3 separate regions of the Homo sapiens genome follow, and all the other regions are linked to region 2. Evidence: fine-mapped expression QTL. A gene starts in region 2. Each other region holds a variant in brackets. All regions are shown on one strand. Distances are between the middles of the regions.

The links.
Region 1: its variant is fine-mapped to the expression of OASL in whole blood (TOPMed, PIP above 0.99).
Region 3: its variant is fine-mapped to the expression of OASL in whole blood (TOPMed, PIP above 0.99).

What each region holds. Positions count from the first base shown.
Region 1 is chr12:121,090,697-121,101,447 of GRCh38, reverse strand. It overlaps LOC105378258 (a long non-coding RNA gene), which reads left to right and starts at 8,453. Exons shown (of 4, transcript XR_007063492.1): 1 at 8,453-10,751. LOC105370031 (a long non-coding RNA gene) reads left to right here. Exons shown (of 4, transcript XR_945458.2): 4 at 719-758. RefSeq lists an enhancer at 7,863-8,364. The variant A/G (reference allele first, on the strand shown) is at 5,795.
Region 2 is chr12:121,033,247-121,043,997 of GRCh38, reverse strand. OASL (2'-5'-oligoadenylate synthetase like) reads left to right here and starts at 4,752. Exons shown (of 6, transcript NM_003733.4): 1 at 4,752-5,224; 2 at 10,255-10,537. The coding sequence starts at 5,027. RefSeq lists enhancers at 4,588-5,007, 4,587-5,086, 5,087-5,588.
Region 3 is chr12:120,813,891-120,824,641 of GRCh38, reverse strand. All of the region lies in intron 1 of SPPL3 (signal peptide peptidase like 3), which reads left to right. Among named protein-coding and RNA genes, the nearest start is that of SPPL3, 85 kb to the left of the region's middle. RefSeq lists an enhancer at 1,685-1,754. The variant A/G (reference allele first, on the strand shown) is at 5,355.

The DNA of each region.
Region 1 (10,751 bases), 57 kb before region 2:
CAGCCTGGCCAACATGGCAAAACTCTGTCTCTACTAAAAATATAAAAATTAGCCAGGCACGATGGTGCACGCCTGTAGTCCCAGCTACTTGGGAGGCTGAGGCAGGAGAATTGCCTGAACTTGGGAGGTGGAGGTTTCAGTGAGCTGAGATCGTGCCACTACACTCCAGCCTGGGTGACAGAGCAAGAAGACTCCGTCTCCAAAAAAAAAAAAAAAAAAATTTGTTGTAAATTCATATGCATGGATTTATATCAGGATTACCTATTCTGTACTATTTGTCTGTGTGGTCTGTTTTTATGCCAGTACCGTGCTGTTTTGGTTACTATAGCTGTGTAGTATATTTTGAAGTCTGATAGTGTGATGCCGCCAGCTTTGTTCTTTTTGCTCAGAATTGCTTTGGCTAGTTGAGGTCTTCTGTGGTTCCACATAAATTTTATATATTTTTTCTTTTTCTGTGAAGAATGTCATTGGTTTTGATAGGGATTGCATTGAATCTGTAAATTGCTTTGGGTAGTGTTATAATTTTAACAATAAAATCCTTGCCATCCATGAACATGTAATATCTTTCCATTTTTTGTGTCCTCATTAATTTTTTTCATTAGTGTTTTATAGTTTTCCTTGTAGAGCTATTTCACTTCTTGGTAAATTTATTCCTGTGTGTTTTATTTTTATTTTGGTGCTATTGTAAATGAGCTTCCTTTCTTGATTTCTTTTTCAGAATGTTCTTTGTTGGTGTATAGAACTGCTACTAGCCTGGGCAACATGGTGAGACCCCATCTTATCTCTACAACATTTAAAAAAAATCTAGCCAGGTATGCACCTGTGGTCCCAGCTACTTGGGAGGCTGAAGTGAGAGGATCGCTTAGGTCCAAGAGATCAAGGCTGCAGTGAGCCATGTTCGTGCCACTGCACTCCAGCCTGGGCAACCCAGTGAGACTGTCTAAAAAAAAATTAGAAATGCCACTGATTTTTGTATGTTGATTTTGTATTCTGCAACTTTACTAATTTGTTTATCAGTTCTAACAGTTTTTTCGTAGAGTTTTTAGATTTTTCCAGGTATAAGACGTGTCATCTGTGAACAAGGCTTATTTGACTTCTTCCTTTCAAATTTGGATGCCCTTTATTTCTTGTTCTTGCCTAATTGCTCTGTCCAGGACTTCCAGTATTATGTTGAATAAAGTGGTGAAAGTGAGCATCCTTGTCTTATTCCAGTTCTTAGAGGAAAGACCTTCCATTTATCCTCATTCAGTACAATGTTAGCTATGGGTTTGTCATACATGGCTTTCATTTTTTTTGAGCTATGTTATTTCTATAACCATTTTGATGAGGGTTTTTAATATGCTAAACTTTACAAAATTATTTTCCAGCATTTATTGAAATAATCATATGGTTTTTGTTTTTGCTTCTGTTTAGGTTATGTATCATGTTTATTGATCTGCATGTGTTGAACCATCCTTGCATTCCTGGGATGAATCCCACTTGATCATGAAGCAGGATAGGTAGTCAAAGAAGTAACCATGTTCTCAGGATGCAGTAACTGTGGTGACTATACAGTCAACACAATAAGCCTCAGTATTTGCATTGTAATTGAGCTCATTCAAGCAAAGCTATCTTCAGTAGGGACTTTCCCCTCTGGAGAGCATGAACAGTTTGATTTTACCTGTCCTCAAACTGACCCTTTGCTCATTATAATAGTAAAAAAAACCACCCCTGGGTGGAGATTTAAGATGCGAATGAGACATGCAATGTATGAACAATCATGTACAGCTACTGTGCATGGGCAAGAGGACCACCCAGAAGATGCTTACTACCAACACCTCTTCCAACCCTTTATGAATAATCGTGTAAGACTTCCATAAAGAGAGTCTTCCTAGTGCCAGTTTTTGCTGTCTCGCCCTTATGAGCAACAAAATTCTCTCTCCCAGGGTATATTATCTATTTTGCACCAAACTTTCAAAATATTATTATTATTTGAGATGTAGTTTCGCTCTTGTTGCCCAGGCTGGAGTGCAATGGCACGATCTTGGCTCACCGCAACCTCTGCCTCCTGGGTTCAAGTGATTCTCCTGCCTCAGCCTCCTGAGTGCCACCATGCCCAGCTAATTTTGTATTTTTAGTAGAGATGGGGTTTCTCCATGTTGGTCAGGCTGGTCTCAAACTCCCAACCTCAGGTGATCTGCCTACCTCGGCCTCCCAAAGTGCTGGGATTACAGGTGTGAGCCACTGCACCTAGCCCAAAATAGTCTTTTTCTTTTGCAATAAATTACTCTATGTTGCATCTCCTTTGCTGTGAGTCTGTTTAAATTTTCTTAAACTAAGAAGACAAGAACTGAGGTCTTGCATCAGCCATCAACAATCATGGTGAATGGTCTTTTTGATGTGCTGTTAGATTCAGTTTGCTAGTATCTTGTTGAGGATTTTGGCTCTATGTTCATCGGGAATATTGGCCTGTAGTTTTCTTTTTTTTGTTGTTGTGTTCTTGTCTGGTTTGGGTATCAGGGTAATGGTGGCCTTGTAAAGTGAGTTTGGAAGTGTTCCCTCCTCTTTAGTTTTTTGGAAGAGTTTGAGTAGGATTGGTAATGGTTCTTCTTTAAATGTGTAGTAGAGTTCAGTAGTAAGCAAAACAGCATGTGCCTTCGGCTCCTGGAGCAGAGGATCCCTGTCTCTCAGTGCACGCACCATGCCTGGCATGGAACTGGCCTCGGACTCCACTTGCAGCCTTAATAACTCCATTCTTTGGATTTTGCTGTCTTATATTTGCCTTTCGTAGAAGGCTGAGAAGTAAAAAAGAAAAATACCACTGGACTCACCTTCATGAACTAGTTTCAAAAACTTTCTGCTCACAGAGTAAAAACACTTCATATTTAGATCAAGGAAATGAATTAAACCTAATCAGTTTAAAATCACCCTCACTAGACCACACTTTTTTCTTTTGAGATGGAGTCTCTGTCGCCCAAGCTGGAGTGCAGTGGCGCGATCACTGCAACCTTCACCTCCCAGGCTCAAGCTATTCTCCCGCCTCAGCCTCCAGAGTAGTTGGGACTACAGGCGTACACCACCACAATCTATTTTTGTATTTTTAATAGAGATGGAGTTTCACCATGTTGGCCATGCCGGTCTCAAACTCCTGACCTCAGGTGATCCACCCACCTCAGCCTCCCAAAGTGTTGGGATTACAGGCCTGAGCCACTGCACCCGGCCTACAACAACTGCTTTGAAAGGGCTTTTTCTCTATGATTAGGAAGATCCATGTTTAGAAGCTTGGTAAATAAATCCAAAACCTCTTCCCAGACAATGAATTGACCCTTCGATGTCCTATGTTTTTTTTTTTTTTTTACCTTTGCTAGTCACTGTATCAAAAGTAAAAAATATTTTTATAATCTTACTATTTTTCTTACATCACAACTTACATAAAATGAGATGCACTTCTTTTTAAAAAGTTTTCAAAAGCATTTTGTTGTGGTTTTAGATGATTAATAGGTGATCAGTTTGAAGAGTGAGAATGAAAAAACCAGCACATGTGGGGGAAGGCTGGGGAAGGGATTTGATTATATATTTAAGTGACTGAATTCAGTTCTCTCTCATTTCCTGGACAATAGTTCTGTTTTTTTCAGATTATTCTGATCATTTCAAATTAAAGCGAAGACACATGATCAGTTCTCAAGTCCTATGTTCTCATTAGGAAAAATAGAAAAACATGCAACTCTAGCTGAATATGGTGGAAAATATTTTGTTAGAGGTCCTTTCATAGGGCCTTTGTCCAGATGTTTGGACCGAGGCCCCCGAGGGCATGGAGAGCCAGCCTGAAGGACAGCGTAGGGTGTGCCTGCAGGGAAGGTCGTAGCTCACCAGTGACAGAAGAGGCAGACTCCCCTTCTTCCAGGCCTTGGTCTTCTACATCCTAGCTCAGTGGTCATTTATTTGTCAGGCCCTTCATTTTACTGATTTAATAACGTGTTTAAGGCAGGGTGCGGTGGCTCACGCCTGTAATCCCAGCACTTTGGGAGGCCGAGGTGGGTGGATCATCTGAGGTCAGGAGTTCGAGACCAGCCTGACCAACATGGAGAAACCCATCTCTACTAAAAAAAAAAAAAAAAAAAAAAAATACCCCGACGTGGTGGCGCATGCCTGTAATCCCAGCTACTTGGGAGGCTGAGGCAAGAGAATAACTTGAACCCATGAGGTGGAGGTTGCAGTGAGCTGAGATCATGCCATTGCACTCGAGCCTGGGCAACAAGAGTGAAATTCCGACTCAATAATAATAATAATAATAATAATAATAATAACAACAATAATAATAATGTGTTTAAATAATTTATCTCATATCTCTGCACCTTCACTCCATTTCTTTTCAAAGAAACAGAGAAAAACAAAAACAAAATGTCATAGTTCTGGGCCGGGCACGGTGGCTCACACCTGTAATCCCAGCACTTCGGAAGGCTGAGGTGGGTGGGTCATTTGAGGTCAGGAGTTTGAGACCAGCCTGGCCAACACGGTGAAACTCCACCTCTACTAAAAATGCAAAAATTAGCCGTGCGTGGTGGTGGGCATCTGTAGTTCCAGCTGCTTGGGAGGCTGAGGCAGGAGAATCGCTGAGGGAGCCCGGGAGGTGGAGGTTGCAGTGAGCTGAGATTGTGCCACTGCACTCCAGCCTGGGCAACAGAGCAAGACTCTGTCTAAAAAAAAAAAAATAAAAGTCACAGTTCTACTTGACCCAGCAGCAGGCTTTAAAACCAGAGGCTTTAATTCTCCCAATTTCCTCATTTGTCAAAATGCAGAAGCCAATCTAAGTAAATCACCTAGAACGGCAGCAAGCTACGTAAGTTCGGGGCTGAAATGTGATATTTCTTCTGAATCTCTCTTTTCTTACAACATCAGAGAAATGGGTAATAAATAGCACCAAACCCAGGGGCTCCACATTTATTCCTCTTTCCGGAGGAAATAAATTCTAGCCACCATATTTCTCAATAGGAACCGATATGTAAGGAGAATGAATTTATTCATTCATGAGTCATGTATTCAATCCTGATAAAAATACTTTATTCTGGTCTTCAATAGCAAATATGACCGGAGAGCCAGAGGGTCAGTGGTCCTGCTCTGAGCTGTGCAGGTGGGGCTGTCTCTGGGTAGTGGGAGGGTCGGGTGGGTGTTTCTGACCTGGGCGTCTTTGCCCAGAGGAGCAGAAGTGAACACACGCCCTCCCACTGGGCTCTTCTGCTGACGTGGGTTGGTAGGACGGTTATGGCTCAGCTTAGGGTCCGCAGCTGGGCAATGAGGAGACTGGAGGGGCCTTTCTCAGGTAGTGGCGTCTGGTAATCAGCAGATGGCGCCCGAGGTCGCTGGGCCCGCCCCGCGTGCGGGTCTTTCTGGTTGACTCCCCAGGCTCTTGCGTGGGAACTCACCACTGAGCACTGAACGCAGTTCCTCAGTCCGAGACCTCCTCACTCTCGCAGGACGCACAGTTGCACACACAAGTCCCTCACCTGTCACGACCCACGCTCTTACATACTCTCCCACTCCCACCCACACCCCCTCTCTCAGATGTGTGATCCAGGATTTCCTCTCCACCCACAGCCGCAGACGCCCCCACGGTTCGTGCAAATGTGCACACTCGGTGCAGCAGATCCCCGCCTCCTGCACACGTGCGCGTTTTTCCAGCCTCGCACTTTATCTCACACGTTTTCTCACCCAGAGACCCCATTTCAGACACACACACCCTCTCAGCCTTTTCTCTTGCCTCCCAACCCCTTAAAACGGAAATCCTTTATTTCCTCCGGAATTTGCTCACTTCGTG[A/G]AATGCCGGTCTGTCTTCTGGCGGATCCTATAGGGCAGCCCTTTCCTGCCCCTTGGTTCCAACAGCCCCTTTCATGCCAGTTTTTGTCACGTGCCTCTTACCATGCTGAAGTGAAATTGACCCAGCCATCACACAATGCCCTAACTCAGGGGTCTGCAAACAATGGCCCCAGAAAGCTGTTTGTTTTCCCCCAGCTTTATCTGAATATGCTTGAAAAGTAAACATTGTATATATTTAAAGTGGGCAACCGGATATTTAATACACATTGTGAAATGATCACCGCAAACTAAAACACCCACCATCTTACATTGTTACCACTTTCTTTCTTTTTTGGAGGTGGGGTGGTTAAGGATCTTAAGATCTACTCTCTTAAGAAATTTCAGGTATACAACAGAGTGTTGTTACACGCTGTACGTTACATCTCCAGAACTTACTCATCTTGTATAACTGACACTTTATACCCATTAAACAACACCCCGTTTTCTCCAACCCTCAGTCCCTGGCAACGACTATTCTACTCTACTCTCTGCTTCTATGAGTTTGGTTAGTTTAGATTCCACATATAAGTGAGATCATGCAGTATTTATTTATTTATTTATTTATTTATTTTTCTTGATGTGGAGTCTCGCTCTGTCGCCCAGGCTGGAGTGCAGTGGTGCCATCTTGGCTCACTGCGACCTCTGCCTCCTGGGTTCAAGCGATTCTGCCTCAGCCTCCCGAGTAGCTGGGACTACAGGCGTGCACCACCACAATCTATTTTTGTATCTTTAATAGAGATGGAGTTTCACCATGTTGGCCATGCTGGTCTCAAACTCCTGACCTCAGGTGATCCACCTGCCTCAGCCTCCTGAAGTGTTGGGATTACAGGCGTGAGCCACTGTACCAGGCTGAGATCATGCAGTATTAGTCTTTCTGTGCTTACTTATCTCACTTAGCATAGCAGGTTCATCCAGGCTGTTGGAAATGGCAGGATTTCCTTCTTTTTTGGAGCTGAATAATATTCCATTGCGTAGACACGTTTCCCTCACCCATTCATCTGTGGATGGATGTTATTTTCCATAATGGCTGTACAAGTTTACATTTTTACTAACAGTGTACAGTGATCCCTTTCCCCCACATCCTCAATAACAGTTGTTATCTTTCCTCTTTTGGATAATAGCCATTCTAACAGGTGTGAGGTGATGTCTCATTGAGGTTTTGATTTGCATTTCCCTGATGATTAGTGCTGTTGAGCACTTTTTCATACACCCGTTGGGCATTTATATGTCTTCTTTTGATAAATATCTGTTCAGGTTCTTTGCCCATTTTCAATCAGGTGATTTGTTTTTTGCTACTGTGTTCCATGAGTTCCGTATATATTCTTGATATTGCCTCCTTATGAGATGTACGGTTTGCAACGTCAGGAAGCTTTTCCCCTGTGTTTTCTTCTCGTAGTTTTATGATTTCAGGTCTTACATTGAAGTCTCTAATCCATTTTGAGTTGATTTAGAATATGCAAAGGAAGCACTTGAAAAAGCCAGCACTAGGTTGGGCAGATCCCTCCTGTGGGAAACTGACTTGGGATAAGAGCAGGACTGCCTGGCCCCCCAGTGAGAGGTGACAGCGTGCTAGCAGCCCTCGCTCGCTCTCAGCGCCTCCTCTGCCTGGGCTCCCACTTTGGCGGCACTTGAGGAGCCCTTCAGCCCGCCGCTGCACTGTGGGAGCCCCTTTCTGGTCTGGCCAAGACTGGAGCCGGCTCCCTCGGCTTGTGGAGAGGTGTGGAGGGAGAGGCGCGAGCAGGAACCAGGGCTGCGCGCAGCGCTTGCGGGCCAGTGCGAGTTCCAGGTGGGCGTGGGCTCGGCAGGCCCTGCACTCGGAGCGGCCGGCCGGCACCGCCGCCCCGGGCAGTGAGGGGCTTAGCACCTGGGCCAGCAGCTGCTGTGCTAGACTTCTCGCCGGGCCTTAGCTGCATCCCCGTGGGGCAGGGCTCGGGACCTGCAGCCCCCCATGCCTGAGCCTGAGTCTCCCCAACCTCCACCCCGCCCCCGTGGGCTCCTGCACTGCCTGAGTCTCCCCGACAAGTGCTGCCCCCTGCCCCACGGCGCCCAGTCCCATCGACTGCCCAAGGGCTGAGGAGCACGGGCGCACCTTGCGGGACTGGCAGGCAGCTCCACCTGCGGCCCTCGTGCGGAATCCACTGGCTGAAGCCAGCTGGGCTCCTGAGTCTGATGGGGACTTGGAGAACCTTTATGTCTAGCTAAGGGATTGTAAATACACCAATCGGCACTCTATATAGAGCTCAAGGTTTGTAAACACACCAATCAGCACCCTGTGTCTAGCTCAGGGTTTGTGAATGCACCAATGGACACTCTGTATCTAGCTACTCTGGTGGGGACTTGGAGAACTTTTGTGTCTAGCTCAGGGATTGTAAATGCACCAATCAGCACCCTGTCAAAACGGACCAATCAGCTCTCTGTAAAATGGACCAATTGGCTCTCTGTAAAATGGACCAATCAGCAGGATGTGGGTGGGGCCAGATAAGAATAAAAGCAGGCTGCCAGAGGTAGTAGTGGCAACCCGCTCCGACCCGTTTTCATAGTGTGGAAGCTTTATTCTTTTGCTGTTTGCAATAAATCTTGCTACTGCTCATTCTTTGGGTCCACGCTGCTTTTATGAGCTGTAACACTCACTGTAAAAGTCTGCAGCTTCACTCTGGAACCAGCGAGACCACAAACCCACCGGAAGGAAGAAACTGCAAACACATCCGAGCATCAGAAGTAACAAACTCCAGACAGGGGGCCTTTAAGAACTGTAACACTGGCCACGAGAGTCCGCGGCTTCATTTTTGAAGTCAGTGAGACCAAGAACCCACCAATTCCGGACACAGTACTTGCTGCCTCTCTATATCATCTCCTCTGAAGGCAGGTATTTGCCTACACAGTCTGCTGAGTACTAAGTGCAACACACACTGCAGGGGCTTCCCAGAGCCCTACTCGGATTCAGGTGGATTCTTATGCAGATGGTGAAAAAGGTCAAAAGTTTGAACTGGGAATCAATTGCTGTAAGTTTCTCTATGATATTCTCCCAGCAAGATGTCTTCCTTGTAATAACTTGGGAGAACGTTGACTCCAGGGTAGGAGAGTGTTCCTGAGGAGTCGGCACACTTTATGGCTGGCCCCAGGCCGTGGGTCAGAAAAATCCACAGCTGGCCACACCATTCTGTGCAGCGGGAAAAACCATCAGTTGAAGGTACTGTGGAAAATCAGTTAAGCTCATTCAATCATCCTGGTTCCTGGTGGGTTCAGTGTCCCATATTTAAGACAAAACTCTTAACACTGTTATGCTGTGGTCTTCTTTGAGTTCATCTGTGAAAAATCTAAATTGTTAAGTCAATCACTAGTCTTACAACTAGAAAAGAAACATACTATGTAAAGTTGCGACACTTTTCATAGAAAGCAACATCTCAATCTAATGTTACATATTCAGGTGAGTGTTAAACATCATCTGAGATGAGCTCTTCTCTGGGCTCAGCCACATCTCTCAAGATCCCAAGAGAATCAAAAGGTTGAAGTGTGAATCAATTTGTATGAATTTCTCATAAATCCTGTCAACAAGATGTCAACAGCTGTCTTTATCGTCATACATTTGGGAGGCTGTTGCCTCCAGGATCTGACAGTGGTTACCAAGGAGTCAGCACCGTCTATTGCTGGCCCCACGCAGTGGGTCAGAAAAACCCACAACTGGGCAGACAATTGAGTTCATCCCAGAAAACCATCCATTGAAGGTGCTGTGGAAAGTCAGTGAAGTTCATTCAATCATCAAGATTCTAGGGGGTTCTGTGTCCCGTACTGAAGTCAGAACTCTCACACTGTTACGCCTTAGTCTTCTTGCAGTTCATCTACACACATCTAAAATGAAGTCATTGCTGTTTCTGCAACTGTAGAAGTAAAGATGTATTTACAATTTAAAGGATGGTACCATTTTACTGGAAAGCAACGTCTCAATCTTATGTTGACACATTCACCTGAGTGTTAAACATCCACTCAAAAGAGTGTTGCCAACCTTGACTAAAATAGTCATTGTGTAGAACAGTTTGAAATTAACATGAAAATGGAACAGACAGAACAGAAAGGTCTCAGATCCTTTGTCCACCCTTTTCTTTTCTTAACCCCATTTTCAGTGGTGTGGTCCATGTGTGTAACAATGACTAAACCAATATGGATACATTTTTACGATCTGAAGTCAGGAGTTTGCATGGAGGTTCACCGTGTTGTGCCCTCTATGGGTTGTGACAAACTCCGAATGCCATTCACCACCCATACGAAGTAGCTGCATGCCTTAAACACTTCCTGTGTTTCCCCTGTGCATCCCTCTCCCCTTTGCCAGAAGCCCTGGCAACAAGAATCCTTTTCACTGTGTCTAGAGTTTTCTCTCCCAGAATTGTATAGGCTTGGAATCATGGAGTAGGCAGCTTTTTCAGACGGCCTTATCCTCCTCAGCAATATTCATTCACTGCCAGCATCTGTCTTTGAGGTCACCCCATGGTCGCCACTCCCCCTTCCCAGCTTTTCCTTGCAAGGTCTCTTGTTGGCTCCAGTGGGAGCTTCTTCCCATCTGCCCAGGCCCTTCCAACGCCCCCCAGTGTCAGCAAGGCCTGGACCAGGGACACCAGCAGCCCCCTGCACTGGAGTCCTGTGGCTCCACCCCAAGTTTGAAATTTCCCAGTAACCCTGCAGCCACTGCCCAGCCAGTTCTGGTAGAAATCAGGGAAAGAAGGATCTTCCATGCACTCAGCGACCTTCTCAACTGAAGTCTAAAGTTTCACTACAGATAATGTTGCCAAGAATGTGGAAAATCTGCCTCCCATCATCACCTCTGCCAGCCACGGCTTCTGTGTGGTTGGGCCACATGCACTGTGTAAAATGACAAAGGGGCTTCATCAATGGCTGAGCATCAGGGCAGGCACATGGCTCTGTTC
Region 2 (10,751 bases):
CACCCCTGCGAAGTGTCCTAATGCATTTCCCTGCATCTGCCCTTGCCCTCTGCGGTTCGTCCTCACCATGGAAGCAGCCAGACCAATCTTAACTCCACTACATGCCACTCCCCTAAATTTGCCACTGCCCTCAGGACAAAAAGCAGATTCACCTGGCACTCTTTTAACCCAGTGGATCATTTCCATTTCTTCTTCTTCTTCTTCTCCTTTTTTTTTTTTTTTTTTTTTTGAGACAGGGTCTCACTCTGTCACCCAGGCTGGAGTGCAGTAGCATGATCATGGCTCACTGCAGCCGCGACCTCCCTGGACTGAGGTGATCCTCCTACCTCAGCCTCCTGAGTAGCTGGGACTATGGGCACTCACCATCATACCTGGCTAATTTTTGTATTTTTTTGTAGAGATGGGGTTTTGCCATGTTGCCCAGGCTGATCTTGAATTCCTGGGCTCAAGCGATCCTCCCATCTTGACTTTCAAAGTGCTGGGATTTCAGGTGTGAGCCACCATGCCCATCCCATTTCCTCTTTCTTAAAACAATATCTTCACTTGGCCTTCAAACCATCACTCCTGATTTCTCTTCCACCTCACTAGCTACTTCTTTTCCTTCTTCTTTGCTGGACTCGTGCAACTCCCTAAACTCCGAATAATATTAAGTGCTCTGGGGCTCAGTCCTGGGTCTTTTTCTCTTCCTGCTGTGTCATCACTCCCTTGGTGATCTCATTCAGTGTCATGGCTTTAAACATCCCTATGCCGGTGACCCCCACATTTTATCTCAAGTCCAGACCTCCTCCCTGTAATACAGACTCGCATATCCAACTCCCCACCACATATCTCCACCTGGGTCTCTGACAGACACCCCAAACTTCAGTTCCAAAACTGAGTTCCTTCCTCATCTCCATGCCCAGCCTATCCCACCTCAGTTAAGGGCAGTTCAACCTTTCTGTTGCTAAGGCCAAAAGCCCCGGACTTAGACCTTGACTCTGATCTTTCTCTCTCATCATACTCTACCCATTAGCAAGACCTGTCAGCCTTGGAGTCAAAATATATCCAGCGGAATGACATGATGTCCAGATTCACTTCCAAATAACACAGTAGGGAATCTAGGGATGGGGGTAGAATTGAAACCAGACTGTCTATAAGTTGATCATTGTTGAAACTGGTGATGGTACATGGAGGTTCATTGTATTATTCCACTTTGTTTGAAATGTTCCAAAATCAGAAAAATTAAAACATACTATTTCACTGCTACCACTCTGATCCAAGTCAACTGACCTCTTGCCTGGACTGTTGCAGTAGCCTCCTAACCATACTTCTGCCTCCACTTTCACCTCCACTCCACCCTCTGCTTCTAATTTAATTTCCTCCCAGCAGCCAATGTGATTAATTCCATTAAAATGAAAGACCGTGTCACTCCTCCACTCAAAACTCTCCAATGTATGGTGTCAGACTCCTACAGAACAACAAAAAATGCTCCCCAGTGGTTCCCCATTTCATTCAGAGTAAAGCCAACTCCTAACAGTCGTCTTCAAGATCCTATCCACTCCTGCTCCTTGTTTATGGAATAAATCTTTTTAAAAAGATCTTATATCCTGGCTGGGTGCGGTGGCTCACGCCTGTAATCCCAGCACTTTGGGAGGCCGAGGCGGGTGGATCGCCTGAGGTCAGGAGTTAGAGACCAGCCTGGCCAACATGGTGAAACACCGTCTCTACTAAAAGTACAAAAATCAGCTAGGTGTGGCGGTGGGCACCTTGAATCCCAGCTGCTCAGGAGGCTGAGGCAGGAGAATCGCTTGAACCTGGGAGGTGGAGGTTGCAGTGAGCCGAGATTGTGCCATTGCACTCTAGCCTGGGCAACAATTGTGAAACTCCATCTCAAAAAAAAAAAAAAAAAGGATCCTGTATCTATTTGCCTTGCCACCCTTTACTACTTAAACCGCATTCCCTTCCACTCTCTGCTCTTGATCACTCCGTTCCAGGCACACTGATGTTCCTTATACTTGCCACCGGGCAGTACCACCACAGGGTCCTCGTACTTTCCACTCCTTCTGCCATGAAGAATCTTCTTCCTTCTGTTACACACGTGGCTCACTCTACCTTCTTTTTTTTTTTTTTTTTTGAGACGGAGTCTCGCTGGAGTTCAGTGGTGCAATCTTGGCTCACTGCAAGCTTTGCCTCCTGGGTTCACGCCATTCTCCTGCCTCAGCGTCCCGAATAGCTGGGACTACAGGTGCCTGCCACCACGCCCGGCTAATTTTTTGTACTTTTAGTAGAGATGGGGTTTCACCGTATTAACCAGGATGGTCTCGATCTCCTGACCTTGTGATCCACCCGTCTTGGCCTCCCAAACTCTTCACCTTCTTATGTCTTTGCTCAGATGTCTCCTTTTCAGGGAGGCCTTCCCTAATCACCTTATGTAAGACTGAAACCTAAATACATGCCCCCAACACACACACACACACACACACACACACACACACACACACACACAACCTCTTAATCCCTTCTCTTGCTTTGTTTTTCTGCTTAGCACTTATCACCGTCTTCTTTACTATAATTTTACCTATTTATCCTATTTGTTGTTTGTCTCCACTACCAGAAAGAAAACTATCTGCAGGTAGGGATTTTTCACTACTGTTTGTTCACTGTTGTATCCACAGCACCTGCCTGGCACAGAGTAGGTGCCCAGTAAGTATCTGTTGAATGAGTGAACGAATGAGTGAATAGCACTCCAAGATTCAATCCTGCCCACCTGTCCAGGTACATTTCTAACCTCTCCCCTGCTCACCCTTTCATCCCAAGGCACACAGCACACTTGAGTCCCTGGCATATCCTAGCATTATTTATACTTCTCAGCCTCTATGCTGTACCCTCATCCTCCTGGCTGGAGTGCCAGTCTTTTTTATTTTTTATTTGGAGACAGAGTCTCATGCTGTCACCCAGGCTGGAGTGCAGTGGCACCATGATAGTTCACTGCAGCCTGAAACTCCTAGACTCAAGTGGTCCTCCCACCTCAGCCTCCCAAGTAGCTGGGGCTACAGGTGGACACCACCACACCTAGCTATTTTTTAAAAAACTTTTTGTTTTTAAAACAAAAACTGGAGTTTTAAACTCCAGGCCACCACTGCCTCTCACCTGCACCACTGTGCAGTGTCCTGACCATCTCCCTACATCTGTTCTTGCCCTTGCAATCATCCTCACCACAGAAGCAGAGAAGTTACAAGTGTGGCAAAGGGCAGACCGGAATTCAAAGCCAATGTGGAGTGGGGAGTTGGATACATGAGTCTGGATTTCAGGGAAGAGGTATGGATTTAAGATACAAATGTGGGAGTCACTGGGTATGGTGGCTCACGCCTGTAATCCCAGCACTTTGGGAGGCCGAGGAGGGCAGATCAGGAGTTCAAGACCAGCCTGGGCAACATGGTGAAACACTGTCCCTACTAAAAATACAAAAAGTTAGCCAGGCGCGGTGGCGGGCTCCTGTAATCCCAGCTCCTTGGGAGGCTGAGGCACAAGAATCGCCTGAACCTGGGAGGCAGAGGTTGCAGTGAGCCGAGATTGTGTCACTGAACTCCAGCCTGGGCGAGACAGTGAGACTCCATCTCAAAAATAAACAAATAAATAAAAATAAAATTAAAATGTGGAAGTTGCCAGAGTAAAAACATTTAAACGCTGGCTGAAATCACCAAGGGAGTAAGTCTAGAACAAGAAGAGAAAAGGACCCAGGACTAAGCCCTGGAGCACTTAATATTATTCAGAGTTTGGGAAGTTGCAGGTGTCCAGCTATGTTGCCCAGGCTGGTCTTGAACTCCTGGCCTCAAGTGATCCTCTCACCTTGGCCTCCCAAAGTGCTGGGACTACAAGCATGAGCCACCATGCCCAGCCCGGATCCCCAGTCTTTAAGATTCCTCTCAAGCAGGTGTCTGCTAACACCAAATGAAACTCATCTGCCGGCTTCATGTTTTCATGCTTTTTTCCTACTTAACTCATCGCACTGGACTTTTGCAGTCTCTTTTTTCTGTGTCTCCTCCACCGTTCTGGGAGTCCCCTTGGAACAGGAACCTCATCTTATTTTGTCTTCTTGGCTCAATGCATGAACTTCTTGGTTCAGTGCGTGAATCATAATACCTGTTAAACCCACTCTATGGGCCGGGCGCGGTGGCTCACGCTGTAATCCTAGCACTGTGGGAGGCCGAGGTGGGCGGATCATTTGAGGTCAGGAGTTTGAGACCAGCCTGACCAAAATGGTGAGACCCCCGTCTCTACTAAAAATACAAAAAAAAAATTAGCCGGGCGTGGTGGCACATGTCTGTAGTCCCAGCTACTAGGGAGGCTGAGGCAGGAGAATCGCTTGAACCCGTGAGGCAGAGGTTGTAGTGAGCTGAGATTGCACCACTGCACTCCAGCCTGGGCAACAGAGCAAGACCCGGCCAAAAAAAAAAAAAAACAAAAAAACAAAAAAACCCACTCTATGAATAGTGAGGGTCAAAGAGGTTAGAGTCTGGCACAGGTAGACTAGAATTCCCAGTCTGTTCTCTTGGGCTCCAGATTCTCACTCCACCACCTGAACACTAGTGAGTCCCTTCCGTTCCCAAGCCTCAATTTCCTTAGACAGATGTAAGCAGTTGAATTGACTAACAACTATCCAACCCCAACCTACTGGGCAAGTTGCCTCCTTTGGGGTCAAACACTATCCAACTTCAGTTTCCCAACGTCATAAAGGAGAACTCTAAAAGTTGAGAATCGAAACTGATGACAGATTGACTAGACGGCCAGCCTGTTAAGGTGGCCCCAGATATTCCAGCCTCAGCCCAGAGTCCTCCTGTGCCCCTACTGCAGCAAGGGTGTCTCCAAGAAGGGGGACCTGGAGTCAGCCCGTCACACCTGGTTTCCTCTCTGCTAGGGTCCCTCCTCCCACAGAGCACTGGAGGGCAGCTGAGGAGGAGCTACCTTAAAAAAGGAGGTGTGTGCCAGGGAGCTGGGTAGGAGCCTGGCTATATATCTGCCCAGCAGCGGTACTCTCGGGACAGAGATGGCACTGATGCAGGAACTGTATAGCACACCAGCCTCCAGGCTGGACTCCTTCGTGGCTCAGTGGCTGCAGCCCCACCGGGAGTGGAAGGAAGAGGTGCTAGACGCTGTGCGGACCGTGGAGGAGTTTCTGAGGCAGGAGCATTTCCAGGGGAAGCGTGGGCTGGACCAGGATGTGCGGGTGCTGAAGGTAGTCAAGGTAAGACTGGGCTCCTCCAGCCCCCACGCAAGACAAAACCCAGTATCAGAGTCCACGTCCCTGGGGATGCTGGGGACCCCTGTCCTCCTTATCCCTAGCCCATGCTGATGACATCTCAGAATACCCCATCCCACCTAGCTGTCTACACCCCACTGCACCACTGCCTTGAGTAGAATGAGTCTAGTAATAATAGCTCACATTTGGGGGCTCACTGGACTAACCTCTTAACATACACTATCTCTAATTCTTGCACTCTGTGAGATAGGTACTATTCTTTGCCCAGTTTACAGATTAGCAAATGGAGGCTCAGAACCAATACAATGCGAGGTCCTTGGTTGGATCCTAGTGTGAATGAACCATCTGTAAAATATAGTTTGGGGACAACTGGCCTAGATATCAGATAGTACATATATCTGATATGGGAAATCATTGTTGATTTTGTTAGGTGTAACAGTAGTTTTGTGGTTATCAGAAGGTTGTCTTTTGTTTGGACACGAACACTGAAGTATTTTAGGGACAAAGTTCCTTGGTGCCTATAATTTACTTTAACGTGGCTTAGATTAAGCACATGTAGCCAGGAATTTAGACTTGTTGAATCAACTAGTTGGGTATATGAGTGTTAGTTGTATCATCTATTTTTCTATGTGTTTTAACTTTTTGATAATAAAATGACTTTTTTTTTTTTTAGAGACAGGGTCTCGCTCTGTCACCCAGGCTGGAGTGCAGTGGCACAATCACCACTCACTGTAGCCTCAATCTCCCTGAGCTCAGGTGATCCTCAGCCTCCTAAATAGCTTGGGATTACAGGCATGCACCACCATGCTCAGCTAATTTTTGTATTTTTTGTAGAGATAGGGTTTCACCAATGTTGCCCATGCTGGTCTCGAACTCCTGGGATCAAGAATATGCCCACCTTGGCCTCCCAAAGTGCTGGGATTACAGGTGTGAGCCACCATGTCTGGCCGGCCAATAAAATGATTTTTGTTTTTGTTTTTTTTTTTTTGAGACAGAGTCTTGCTCTGTCACCAGGCTGGAGTGCAGTGGCACGATCTCAGCTCACTGCAACCTCTGCCTCCCAGGTTCAAGCAATTCCCCTGCCTCAGCCTCCCAAGTAGCTGGGACGACAGCGCCCACCACCACGCCCGGCTAATTTTTTGTATTTTAGTAGAGACAGGGTTTCACCGTGTTGGCTAGGATGGTCTCGATCTCCTGACCTCATGATCTGCCCTCCTCGGCCTCCCAAAGTGCTGGGATTACAGTGAGCCACTGCACTCGGCCTAAAATGATTTTTTAATGGAGGCTCAGAGAGGTGAGGTGACTTGCCCAAGGTCACACAGTGTTGAAGCTGGGATTTGAACTTGACTCAAGGGACCCAAGCCCCCCTCACTGAGATTTTCCCCCAAGCCCTTCCTCCAGCTGTTTCATGCCACCGCCTGTGCTAGCTAAGATCAAAATTCAAGAGGGTCGGAGCTAGAAAGACTTTGGAGAATCAGACAGTCTCACCAATGACTCACTTAAAAAATTAAGTAAACCGAGGCACAGAGAGGGTGAGAGATACCCCAAGGTCACACAGCGAGTTGGTGGCAAAGGCAAGACTAGAATTAGGACCCCTGACTCCCAGCCCAGTGCTCAAGTTCTCTCTCTAGGGGCAACCAACTCACAGAGGGATCTAGAAGCCCTGGGCCCCTATCCGTTCTTTGCACCTATCCCCAGCATATGAAGCCTGAGGCCATACAATTTATAAGTGAGAAACCACAAATTTTGATATTAGACAGACTCTTCGCTTCTTCCTTTACCAGCTGTGTGGTTTTGACCTTCCCACTCTTCTTTCTCAAACCCACATTCTTTTCATCTGTGATTGGGGCATCATCATCATCTCTCCCTCACCAAGCCAGTGGTGCAATGCAGGCTGAATGATTCATGCACGATAAATGCTCAGAAACAGAAGCATCATTATAATTCTTGCCAAGCTTTCTTCTGGGCCTGGGACTCAAGTCTGACTCTGGCAGACCCTCCTAGACCACCCCCTCCCCAACAAACTTGAGAATAAAGTGGAGGGAATAAGGAATGTCTGGTAAGAGGAGGATGCTACAAGAATAAGTTTATTGTGTGTGTGTGTGTTCCACCACGCCTGGCTAATCTTTGCATTTTTAGTAGAGACGGGGTTCCATCATGTTGGCCAGGCTGGTCTCGAACTCCTGACCTCAAGTGATCCACCCACCTCGGCCTCCCCAAATGCTGGGATTACAGGTGTGAACCACCACGCCCGGCCAAGAATGAGTTTTTACGGCAGGAAATGCTATTTACCTAAGCCTCAAATACTTCCTGCACATCATAGCCACTTTTCCTCTTGAAACCACTAAATGGTAGCAATCCCCAGTGAGCCATGACTAATGAGGAATAATATATCTTATTTAGAGTCTAAACCCTCCCGTTCCCCACCCTCTGAAAATCTAGTGAGCGGAGCTGGTCCACATAAGGGAATGCTCGTCTTCAAATGAATTGTGCTTAAATAGGTTTAAAACTGAAGCAAATCAGGAAGCCTGTTCTGGATGTGTTCTTTTCTCTCTGCCTGGATCTTACCAGTGGGAAAGGCAGAAAGGGAAGTCTACGCCAGGCACAGTGGCTCACGCCTGTAATCCCAGCACTTTGGGAGGCCAAGGTGGGAGGATTGCTTGAGCCCAGGAATTCGAGACCAGCCTGGGCAAAATGGTGAGACCCCCGACTCTACAAAAATATATATAAAAAATTAGCTGGGCATGGCGGTGCATGCCTGTAGTTCCAGCTACTCCGGAGGCTGAGGTGGGAGGATTGCTTAAGCCCAGGAGGTCGAGGCTTCAGTGAGTGAAGATCGTGCCATTGCACTCCAGCCTGGGCAACAGAGCAAGACCCTGTCTCAAAAAGAAAGGGAAGTCTAGACTGGCCTTCGGGGGGAATGTGTCCTTCATTCACACACAGGGTGCCATCTCCAACCCTCTCCCAGGGGGTGGAGGTGCTGGGTCTGAATGCCCATGGTCCCTTGGAAGCAGGGCCTGGCTCACAGCCTTGGGTCACGAGGAAGAAAGAGGCGGAAGAACCATCCCCTACTTGAGTTCTGGCTCTTTCTCTGACTCTGCTGCCTTCTGGCTGGGAGACCATGGCAAGCTCCTCACTGCCTCAGTCTTCTCATCTGTACATTGGAGATAATTCTCCTAGTACCCACCTCAATACAGGAAGTGAAGGCGTTTTTTTTTGTTGTTTTGTTTTGTTTAGATGGAGTCTCGCTGTGTCGCCCAGGCTGGAGTGTAGTGGCGAGATCTCAGCTCACCACAACCTCTGCCTCCTGGGTTCAAGCGATTCTCCTGCCTTAGCTTCCCCAGTAGCTCGGATTACAGGTGCACACAACCACACCTGGCTAATTTTTGTATTTTTAGTAGAGATGTGCTTTCACCATGTTGGCCAGGCTGATCTCGAACTCCTGACCTCATGATCCGCCCACCTTGGCCTCCCAAAGTGCTGAGATTACAGGCATGAGCCATCATGCCTGGCTGGGAAGTAAAGATTAAAAGGAATAATATGTATACAGGGCTCTTATGGGTGCCAGACACAGGGCGTGCTCATGTCATCCAGCATCCGTGCTCATGTCACACAGGGCATGTTATATCATCCGGCAACAGCTGGAATCTGATTCTTGTGCAGTGACTCCAACCACCAAGAAAAGTAGCCTTCTGGGGGTCTGATGCCTCCCTAGCAATTCCACCTCCCAACACAGAATGAGAAGGAGAGGAGGCCAGAGAGTTGTGGCGCTTTGCATACCAGAGGCACCAGGGCCTGGAGAGCTCATCTAGAATCTCAAAACATCGAAAAATCCCTTCTCGACCTCCTTCCATTACTAACAGGAAAACTGACCCCCCGGCAGCAGAAGAGATTGTCTAAGTCAGCTGGATAATGAGAAGAAAGAGAAATGTATTGCTGACTTCCTGTGTGCCAGGCACCCCACCAAACGCTTGGCATACATTATTTCATCTGATCCTCCCAGTAGCCCAGTGACTCTTGTTCCAACATTACTTTCATTTTACAGATGAGGGTCTCAGGAGTCAGAATGTTTACCCAGCTAAGAAACAGGGAAGAGTCAAGATCTTTTTCAGGCTGCTCCATTTCACAGCCTATGGCTCTTAAATCCACCAGGCAAACTTGCTCCTTGCTTTATAATGTCATGAAATTATTCAGCCCCACCACCACCCCCAGAATCCTCAAACAACCCTATGGAGTAGATGCTACCATTCCTCTGGAGTAGGCCTTACTCTGTGGGTAAGAAGACTGGGTCTCAGAAGCAATGCAGTGTAGTAGATAAGAAGCTGGGCATTTGGGGAGGCCAAGGGGGCAAATCGCTTGAGTCCAGGAGTTCGAGACCAGCCTGGGCGACATGCCAAAACCCAGTCACTACAAAAAATACAAAAATTAGCCAGGCATGGTGGCGCAGGCCTGTAGTCCTAGCTACTTGGGAGACTGAGGTGGGAGGATTGCTTGAGCCAAGATCATGCCACTGCAGCCCAGCCTGGGCAACGGGAGTGAAACCCTGTGTAAAAAAAAAAAAAGAGTCTGGGCTCTGAGGGCTGCAAACTGCGAGACCTGAGACAAATGACTAATGAGGAGAAAGACAAATGTGTTGCTGACTTCCTGTGTGCCAGGCACCCCACCAAACCCTTGGCATACATTATTTCATCTGATCCTCCCAGTAGCCCAGTGACTCATATTCTGCCATTGCTTTCATTTTAGAGATGAAGGTCTTAGGAGTCAGAACATTTACCTAGCTAAGAAACAGGGAAGTGTCAAGATCTTTTTCAGGCTGCCCCATTTCTCCATCCCATGTCTCGAGATCCTCCAGACATCTCAGTTTTCTCACCTGTAAAGTGTGGGTATTAGTACTACCCACAACCCATCCCTCAGCGGGTGGTGAGCATTCAGTGAGACAGTGCATGTGAAGTGCCGCAGGGGTTGCCTGGCTCATGGCAGTGGGCCTCAGGGTGACGGGGCTCTGTGTTCTGCAGGTGGGCTCCTTCGGGAATGGCACGGTTCTCAGGAGCACCAGAGAGGTGGAGCTGGTGGCGTTTCTGAGCTGTTTCCACAGCTTCCAGGAGGCAGCCAAGCATCACAAAGATGTTCTGAGGCTGATATGGAAAACCATGTGGCAAAGCCAGGACCTGCTGGACCTCGGGCTCGAGGACCTGAGGATGGAGCAGAGAGTCCCCGATGCTCTCGTCTTCACCATCCAGACCAGGGGGACTGCGGAGCCCATCACGGTCACCATTGTGCCTGCCTACAGAGCCCTGGGTAAGGGGAGGGGAAGCTCACCCGACTCACACACTTGCCCACCCCAGGAGACTTCCCAGTGTCTCACCTTTACTCATGGCCACGTGCACACACCCACATTTATTCATTTCATCTGTGTCCTATGCTTGGGGCTGGGTTATTGCAGTGCACAGGATTAACTCAACTCTGGCTATCATATTGCTCAACTTGGAATACAGAAATTGACCAAAGAATT
Region 3 (10,751 bases), 220 kb after region 2:
AGAGGATCACCTGAGCCCAAGGAGGTCAAGGCTGCAGTGAGCCGTGATCATGCCACTACACTCCGGCCTGGGTGACAGAGTGAGACCTTGTCTCAGAAAAAATAAAAGTTTAAGAAAACCATTGTATTTAAATTGGGCTCTTTGAAAATTAAATTCTGCTATAGAACTTACTCTGTAGTATTACTTGTTAAATTCTATATCCGACTGAAGAACACAAGCTTTTAGTATTTAGTATAAGTGAAAAATATAGCCAAATCAGACATCACTAACACTTTTTTGTCTTTTTTGCTAACGTTTCCACCAGAATCCTGTGTTCCATTAAAAAAAAATTTTAGTGTTATTTTAAAAACTCAAATAATACAGAAATGTGAAATAGTCCCATTTTTAATAAAAGTGGTTTTATGTGATACGTAGGTCTTCAGCTTGCTTCTTCCTAACAATTCTTCGTGCCATTCTTTTAAATTTCTTTGTGGGCTGGGTGCAGTGGCTCACGCCTATAATCCTAGCACTTTGGGAGGCTGAGGCGGGCAAATCACAAGGTCAGGAGATCGAGACCATCCTGGCTAACACCGTGAAACCCCATCTCTACTAAAAATAGAAAAAATTAGCTGGGCTTGGTGGCGGGCGCCTGTAGTCCCAGCTACTTGGGAGGCTGAGGCAGGAGAATGGTGTGAACCCGGGAGGCGGAGCTTGCAGTGAGCTGAGATTGCGCCACTGCACTCCAGCCTGGGCGACAGAGTGAGACTCCGTCTCAAAAAAAAAAAAATGTCTTTGTGATAGAGTGAATTATATAAAACACAATGACTATAGTAAAACAAATAGGTTAATTCACCCCACTATGTTTCTGTTTTTTCATCTGTACAAAATGGGGATCATAATGGGAAGCTCTTAGGACAGTGCTGGGCACATGACTCAGTAAAAGATTGCTGTTACAACTTGGAAAAGGGAATCATCAGCCTATATAGATGATAACCAAAGGCATGAGAGTAGACAGTATCACCCAGAGATGAGATGTGGAGTAAGAAGTAAAGAGAACTGATGACAGAGCCCTGATGGGCAGAGGAGAAGGAGAAAATACGGAGCCAGAGAGCAGGGAAGAAATCCAGTAGGATGTCGTGGGAGCTGGGATAAAATTGTTTCAAGAAAAGGAAGTGGCTACTGTTGTCAGATCCTGCAAGGGGAGCGGGGATATCAAGTAAGATATTGACTGAAGTGTTACTAGATTAAGTAACAACAAGATTGTTGATGATCTTGGGGAGAGCAAATTCCATGGAGTGCTGGGGATAGAAGGCACAGTGTGACAAGGAGATACCAGTGAAGACGGCAAATACAGCCAGATCCCTAGCTTTGGTAGCCCTATGTGAACTGGCCTTTCTTCCTTTTGTTCTCTGTCCTCCCCGCCACCGCCGCCGCCCCCCCACCCCCCACCCCCACACACACACTCTCCGTCTCTCACAGACACCTTTGTGGGAATATGCTCTAGCTCTTGCTTTTTGTCTCTTGCACGCATGATCACTCACTCTTGCTCTCTCCTCTCTAGCCCAACTGAACTGCTTGACTACTTTGTGAACTCCCAGCAGGTCGCACTGTCACATAGGCCTCCATGCTGAGTTCCTACACCTGTCTGTTTAATTTGGCAACCTGTTTACTTCTTTTTGTCTCCCTGTTAGGCAATTCTTGGTGGGTGGTAGGGGCTGAGTCTTTATCATGGAGTGCTAGTACCTAGCAGAGTCCTCATGCATGTGGTGATACATAAGATAGGACAGAACAGTGACCAGAGGTATTTATTCTAGTTGGAGCTTGTAACAGACATTAGATACTGCAAGATGATGGAGAGATTTGGTTTGATTTTTAGATGTGTTGAATTTGAGGTGACCGTGGTATATGCAGGTAGAAGTGTGCCCCCAGGGTCATTGGAGATTTGCTACTGAAATTCAGTCTGTCTAATCCCTCCTTGCTCTGGGGCTCAAGAGACTTTCCTTCTTCAATTTTTTCATCATCCCAGACAGAAACCCTAGTTTGTCCTGATAGAAGTAAGGGATGAACTGTGATTTAAACTCTTAGGCTCCTGTTTGCTTGTCCACAGAATTTGTCACTAGGAGAGGTTAGCCCCCAGGAAATAACTAAATGTCAATCTGTAGCATTCATTTTTAAAAGTCACTGGAAATTTTCTTCTTGAAGTTAGATTTTGGAATTGTAGGGATGCTTTTAAGACTTCGTTTCTAGAATCATTTCTAAAACTATTATCAGCATTAAATGGCAGGGAATAATCTTTTAATGAAACAGATACAGTAAAAACCAGTTCTTTTAGAGGTTAAGAGCAGTTTTTAAAATTTTCCTTAAGTTTTATAAAAGTTGTTATTGTAAAATATACATAACATACAATTTGAAATTTACCATTGAACTTTTTCTAAGTGTACAGTTCAGTAACATTAAGTACGTTCACTTATGTTTTGTGCAACAGTCACCACTATTCATTTCCAGACCTTTTTCATCATCCCAAACAGAAACTCTGTATGCATCAAACAAAAACTCCCCATTCCCTTTCTCTCCAGTCCTGGTATCCGCTATTCTGCTTTCTTTTTCTATGAATTTGCCTAATCTAGGTCTGTCATATAAGTTGAGTCATAACAATATTTGTCTCTTTTTTCTGGTTTATTTCACATAGCATCATGTTTTTGAAGTTGATTTATGTTGTAGCATGTATCAGAATTTTCTTCTTTTTTAAGGATGAATAATATTTGATTGGATGGCTGTACCACAATTTATTTATCCATTCATTCACCGATAGACACTTGGGTTACTTCCACCCAACCCAACCCATTATTCACGGCCCAGCCATTGTGAAAATTGGTGTACAAGTATGTTTGAGTCCCTGCTTTCAGTTATTTGGGGCAAATACCTAGGCTTTAGTAAGTTTTATGAGCACATATCCTGAGAGGGTATTTAGATATCCAGTAGCATTTTTCTTATGAAATAGTAATTTCAACCAGCATGTTAACATAGATTTTTGCAAGTTTTTAAGGAGATTTATTTTGTACAAGTTCTAAAGCAGTCTTGGATCATGATACAAAGATACCTTCAAAAGCTGTATTATAATTTTTTTTTTCTGTAAATAAGTCCCTTGGCCAAATAAAAATGCAAAACTGCTTTATCCAGCTTGTACCTATTGGCTTTGTCCGAGGAAACCAGTTGCCTAATTTCTTTCCCTTGCCTTATGTTTGCTGCAGCCAGCCCAGGGCTGTTTCCGGCTGCAGTGTTGAACACAGGAACCACAGTGTGTTGCTGGTTGTGTGCGCAAGTCACAATCAAAAGCGCATGCTTTGGAAACTATGATGTGAGGACCTGTCTTAGAGGATAATTCATAGGAAAAAGTTGAAGCATATTGCCATCGAAGCCTTTAATGTGGGGTCTTCTTTCTGTTTCAATCCCTCTCCCCGCCCCCGGCAATAAATCCTTTCTTATCTATCCTAGGCAATAAGATGTATTTGAAAACAAAATTACTCCAGATCATCTTTACTGCCTTGAAGACTAATACCTTTCTTTCATATGAATTTGCTCAGTCAGCAGATTTTGTATCTCTGATGGAAGTAATCATTTTTTCATTGTATTAGTCTTGGTAAAATATAAAATATTAACATATAGTATATTTCATATATGTCTTTCCATGAAATATTTTGTGATAATGCAGGGATAATATTTTGATATTTTTGTGGAGGTGGGATCTCCATATGTTTTTCAGGTTGGTCTTGAACTACTAGGCTCAAGCAATCCTCCTGCCTCAGCCTCCCAGAGTGTTGGGATTACAGGCGTGAGCCACTGCGCCCAGCCTTAAGTAACTATTTTATTTACTACTTGTACCTTGCACGTAAATGGTTAAATTTAATGTATTAAATTTTTATTTCATAACATACCTATTCTGTTATTAAGCTTGCAATACATATTTGGTTTTTTCCTTTAAAATATGGGGAAATGTGGAAAACAATGATCTCCAACATTATAATGTTAGACTAATATTTTTAGATAGGCCGGACACAGTGGCTCACGCCTGTAATCCCAGCACTTTGGGAGGCCGAGGCGGGCAGATCACAAGGTCAGGAGATCGAGACCATCCTGGCTAACACGGTGAAACCCCGTCTCTACTAAAAAATAGAAAAAATTAGCCGGATGTGGTGGCAGGCGCCTGTAGTCCCAGCTACTCAGGAGGCTGAGGCAGGAGAATGGCGTGAACCTGGGAGGCGGAGCTTGCAGTGAGCCAAGGTTGTGCCATTGCACTCCAGCCTGGGCGACAGAGCGAGACTCTTGTCTCACAAAAAAAAAAAAAAAAAAAAAAAATTTAGAGAAAGATACAAATTAAGTCCTATTTCAACATATTTCCATAAAGGGAAAAATGAACATTTCTGTAAGCATGGAATACAAGTTTTTTTGCATATAATTTTTAAATTTGAAATTTTGGATAGCAAAAAAATTCTAACAACCTTTGGTGTTTTGTGATCTGTAAGAATTGCATGTGAGAAGGTGTTAGCAGTTTGCATAGCCAGAGCTTATGGGTAAAGGTAGAAGGCAGCAATTCCCGAAATGTGGCTCATGGACCATGGGAGATTCCTGAGACCCTGTCATGGGGTCCATAGGGTCATACGGTTTTCATAGTACTACTAACATTACTTGTCTTTTTCATTTTCGCACCTTTTTTCTCATGGTGGCAAAGCAATGGTGGGTAAAACCTCTGGTGCGCCCTCACCTGAATCAAGGCAGTGGCACCAGGCGGTCCTGGTAATCATGGTGTTCTCCATCACCAGGCACCCAGCTTATCTTCTGAAATGCCATTTACACTTAGAATGTTCTTGACGAAGCAGTAAAAGTTTCTTTTGTTAAGTTTTAACCCTTGAGTACACTAAGTGATAAAATGGAAATTTTTAATGATAAAATGGAAAATTTCCACAAAGCACTTCTGCTGTATTCCAAAGTACCATTGGTTATCTTGAGGAAACCACTTGTGCAGTCATTTGAGATGCTAACTGAACTAGATTTGTTTAAAATTGGAATACCATTTTTACTTGAAAGAATGACTTTTGGGCATATTTGGCAGATAGTTTCTCAAAAACGAATCAAGTGAGCCTGTCACTTAAAGGGAAAAAAAGTGTTTTTATCAATGATAAAATTTGAGCTTTCAAGTGAAAATAGAATTTTTGAAAATTTGTATTTGCTACCATAAGCCCCAAGAATGGTACTAACAATATGATTTTTCAGATATTGTATAATGAAAAGAGACAACATCTGGAAGAGCGGCATAACTCAGCAAATCAGTATCTTCCAAATTACCAATGCATGATGTTACAAAATCATCCATGGGT[A/G]AAAGATTCACACAAAGTTCAGGATAGTCCAGTGGATTTTAATGTAATATAGTAAAATTCAAAAAAATCCATTGAGATAGTTTCAAATTCCACATTGCAGTAAACCTTTAAGAAATTACCACTTGTTGAATTTTAGTGTAGTATCAAAGAAGAATATTGATAGTTATCTGAAAAGGCTATGAAGTACTCCTTCTTTTCCAACTATCCATCTGTGTAAAGCTGGATTTTTTTCCCCATGGAGTTCAGTTCAAACAACATATGACAGTAGATGGAATGCAGAAGCCGATATGAGAATCCAGCTATCTTCCATTTAAGCTAGACATTAAAGAGGTTTGCAAACATGTGAAGAATGTTCCTTGTCTCGCTTAATTTTTTTGTTCTGTTTTGTTTTGGAAAATAGATATTTGCCCTTTAAAAAATGTTATTTATGTTAACATGTAATGGTTTTATTGTGTATAAATAATATTTTAACTTTTTCTCAGTTTTAATTTAATACGGTAAATATCACTAACCCACATGTGCTAAAGCTCTTTGGGAGTCCTCAATTTTAAGAGTGTAAATTGTTCTGCAACCACAAAGTTAGAGAAGTGCTGGTCTAAGGCAATGTCTGTGCAGTGTTAGAATAGTAGTTGCTTGGTTTTGGGGTGGACAAGAATGCTTTCATTGTATAGCTGGAAGGCTGACACATAGAACACGTTATAGAACAGTACTCTCTGTGTCTCAGTTTGGCATGATTTTTAGCAGGATATGTGTTATAAGCACTTGCTGGTAAAGTAGCTAGAAATAGATGTTTGACTGTAGAGCAGTTACTAAAATCCAGCATGGTTCTAAAAATCTTAGGGTTTAGAGTTTAGTCTTGTATATGAGAGACATTTCTGGTAACTCTTTGTCTATTAAGGTAAAGGCTTGCAGGAATGTAGTTAAAGAATTAGTGGTCTTCATAATGAATATATAAAATATTTCAACTCAACAGCTGGCCTATACTGATACATCAGTTGACAAAGTCTTCAAGACTGTTTTCAATACATTTGGCTAACCTGATTTTGGTGTGTCTCAAATGCATGTATTTAGTTTCTTTCTGTGTTTCAGTAAGAATTCCTTTATCTCAGAATAGAGTAGTTCCTGTCTTTCATGTCCGCCCAGAGCCTCTGGGAACAGACACCTCAGTAGGAGGGCCTGAAGAATGACACATTTCTGTTGATGCTTTGGTAGAGTCTGAAATGTAGGATAGGGAGAGACTGTGAAATAAGATTGCTGGGCTTTGATTTCCTATTATTGGCCAGACTTACCCACCCTTTTTCCTTGGAATACCTTTTCTTCCCTGTCTGCTCCATTGATCGTAGTCTTACCCCAGATCCCCAAACCCCAGCTCCTGTAGTAAAATCTGTGTCTATTTCTGAAATGCTGATGAACGCTTGCTTTCTTTGTGTGGGCAAAGAACAGAATAGAGGATGATACAGGAGGGGCCCTTTTCCTCCCTGTCGTTACCAGCAGTGAAAACCTTTAGACATTTTTGAAACCGCTCTGTGCTCATTTTTATGAGCTTGTAGAGTAGGTGAAAAGTGAGCCTACTTCAGGAGACCAAGGGCATAAACAAATATGGGATAAAGCAGTCTAGCAGAGGGAAAATGAAGAGTTTGTAAATTAGCCTTAAGGCTGGCCACATTTTTTAAAAAGACCCTAGGGAAGAATTTCCCATGGGTTGAATAAACGAACCAGAGTTGCTACCCAGGGTAAGATGATGGCTTACCTTCATATATGTCTACTGGTATAATGTAAGATTTTATATTAAGCCATTTTTAAATCTGTAAATATTGGGTGATTAAAAGAGGAAAATACCAATTTTAGTCACCTGGAAACAGGGTCATCTGTGGCAGTGCCTCTTTGGCTATGTCAATGATGGGCAACATGAAAGATGGAAAGAGTATTTCTGGTAATATTTCTGTTTTTGAAAGCAAAACAATATAAAAATACAGACTTTTTAAACTTTTTTGAGACAGGGTCTCGCTCTGTCACCCAGGCTGAAGTGCAGTGGCACGATCATGGCTCATTGCAACCTGAAACTTGTGGGCTCAAAGGATCCTCCTACCTCAGCCTCCCAAGTAGCTGGAACTACAGGCGCGCCCCACCGTGCCTGGCTGATTTTTTTTTTTTTAATTTTTCATAGAGTCACATCTCATTTGTTGCCCAGGCTGGTCTTGAACTCCTGGGCTCAAGTAATCCTCCCACCTCGGACTCCTAGAGTGTCAAAATTACAGGCATGAGCCACCACACCCAGCCAAAACCTAGACCCTTGAAAAATAAAAATTAATTTGGCCTTCAAGTTTATCTGGGCCCAAAGAGGATTTTATAGGTAATAGAAAGATATAAAGGATTGCCCAGGGAGGATTACATAGCTAATTACTGTATAATTACAGATAGAAACTTCAGTTTGTCATCCAGTTTTGGGCAGATATTGAAGTCAATTTGAGAGACTCTGGAATTAGGCCTCCTAAGATCAGAAGTGCATCTGGCTCTTGATCTTAAAAAACACTAATAATCACAGAGATTCACAGTTCTCCAGCCCTGGGCAACATTGTGAAACCCTGTCTCTACAAAAAATACAAAAATTAGCAGGCTGTGGTGGCTCACACCTGCAGTCCTGGCTGCTTGGGAGGCTGAGGTGGGAGGATTGCTTGAGTCCAGGAGTTGGAGGTTTCACTGAGCCAAGACCGTGCCACTGCACTCCAGCTTAAGCAACAGGTGAAACCCTGTCTCCAAAAAGAAACAACAACAAAAACTTTTATAATGATAGTTTGAATTGAAAATAGTATATGAAATTTCAAATAACATCGTAAAATAATCTATAACTTCTAGTTATGTGATATTTGGTAAAGTTTGCCAAATTGTTAGAACTTTTTAAGATCTTAGTATAAATTATAAAATACCATGTACAATATTAGGGGTGAACTTTAATCAGATTTTCTTGTATAGGTTTATTTGAAAGCTAAAACAAAACTTAAGTTAGAAGAAACCATTAAACATCTGAACAGTTTTTTTGAAATCAGGCATTTAGTTCTGCAGTGGGGGACATGCTCACTGCCAGGATATGGAGGTGAGATCTGGCAACCTTAGTCACACTCTTATATTTTGCACATGGTCAAACCTTCATCTAGAAAAACAGACTATGAAGAAAGTCAGTAGCTACAGCTCCTCAGAGGCTGGAGCACAGCACAGAAGATCTGTCAGGGAGGAGCTGGTTTTTGAAAATTTAATCCAGGCCAGGTGTGGTGGCTTACGCATGTAATCCTGGCATTTTGGGAGGCTGAGGTGGGTGGATCACCTGAGGTCAGGAGTTTGAGACCAGCCTGGGCAACGTGACAAAACCCTGTCTCTAATAAAAATACCAAAAATTAGCTGGGCATGGTGGCGGACTCCTGTGATTCCAGCTACTTGGGAGGCTGAGGCAGGAGAATTTTGCTTGAACCCAGGAGGCGGAGGTTGCAGTGAGCCGAGATCGCACCGTTGCACTCCAGACTGGGCGACAGAGCGAGACTCTGTCTCAAAAAATAAAATAAAATAAAATAAAAATTCCAGACTTCCAGAAGTCTGAGGTTAAGAGTTTCTAGAGAGTCTCCATTGATTTGAGAGATGTAGCAAAATAATTAAACAATAGTATCAGACTTTAAGGCAGTGAATTTGGGAAGTGTAGATATTTAATCTGCCTTGAGGGTAGTGACAATATGCTTCAAAATACAAAGGATACAAAAACAAAGTCATCCAAGTAAGACACCATCAGAAGAAAAGTTCCTCAGAAGAAAGCCGCTCTTGTTTTTTTATAGCTCTGGAGTCTGGAGAAAACTTTAAATTGCCTTTTAAAAATACCTGCTGACCTTTAATCATAAAAAAGAAAAGCTGCTCAATCTCACTTTAATTTTTAAATTTTAATTACAATTTTAATGCAAATAAAAACCATACTGAGATACCAGTTTTCATCTCTCAGATGGGTAAAAATTCAAAAGTTAGACAATACTCACTTTGGAAAGTAGGAGCATTGAGTTCATTACGGATGAGAGTGTGAAATGGTATAACCTCTCTGTAGGGCACTTTGGCAACATCTATCAAATTGCAAGTGCATTTCCCCTTTGAGCCAGCAATCTGACTTTGAGGAATGTTATACAAACAGGTCATTTCATGTGTGTGCAATGCAGGTATAATTTACAAGGCCCATTATTACAGAATTACTTGTTAACAGCAGAGTTTTTGGAAACAACCCCAGTGTCCACCTGTAAGGAACTTGTTCTTAAAAAACAAAACAAAACAAAACAAAAACTGTGGGGCATCTACACAATGGACTATCATGCTGATGTTTAAAAGAAAATTTTAAAAAGGAAGTTCTCCACATCCTGATACAGAAAGATTTCTAGGCTATATTGTAAAAGGGGGGTAGAGGGAGATACTGAGCAGTATATTTAATATTCTACCTATTTCATAAGAAGTGGTGAGAAATAATGTTCTTATATTGTATGTTTACTCCAAAAGGCTAGATAAGAAACTAAAAAATGTGGTTATTTAAAAGTTGTTATCTAAAAATGACTGAGAGGGTGGGGGTTGGGTGATGACTAGATGGGAGTAAGACCTCTGTGTATGTACTTTTTAATATACTTTTGATTTTTGTATGAATATATAACCTAGTCATAATTTTTTTTAATTTTAAGAAAATGTTCCTTCTTGTTTTCAGAATTTTGGAAGATGTGTGCAAAGATTATGTCACACAGCAAGAAACATAATTTTAGAATAAAGAGAAACTGATGAAGTTCATTTTCCTAATACATGATACATGATAGCTCAGATATCTCTTGGTATGTGAGCCTTGTCTACATAATCTGGTTGTTCAAAAGAGGACCCTGGACAGCCACAGCTGCATCATTGCTGGATGGGACCCAAGAGAGAGGCTCGAGTGGCCTTCATGTCTCCTACCTTCCCTTTCTCCACTCCCCGGCTGACTGAAATTTAGGAAAAGGTAGCACCCCTGTGAGGTGCTGTGAAACAGAATTCATGATCCAAAACATATATTCTTGTATTCATCTGCCTCTAGTAGTTTTAATTGTATTCAAATTGTCTTACCATCTCAAAGCCTGGTGTGGGGGGAAGAGAGAAGGATACAATATACCTATCATTCCAGCTTCATAATTTTAAAAAGTCTACCTTTTTTTTGGTGTATCCCTCCCATGTTTTATTTTCTTAGAGTATTTTAAAGTAAATCTTAAATCATATTATTTCACCTGTTAAAAGATAAACTTATGTTTAACTTTTGGAGAGTTTTTTTGAGCAGTGTCTCATGAATCAGGCAGCACCAGATCACAAGTGGATCACAGCTCCTTGGAGGGGGCCTGAGGGCAAAACTTTTATAAAGCT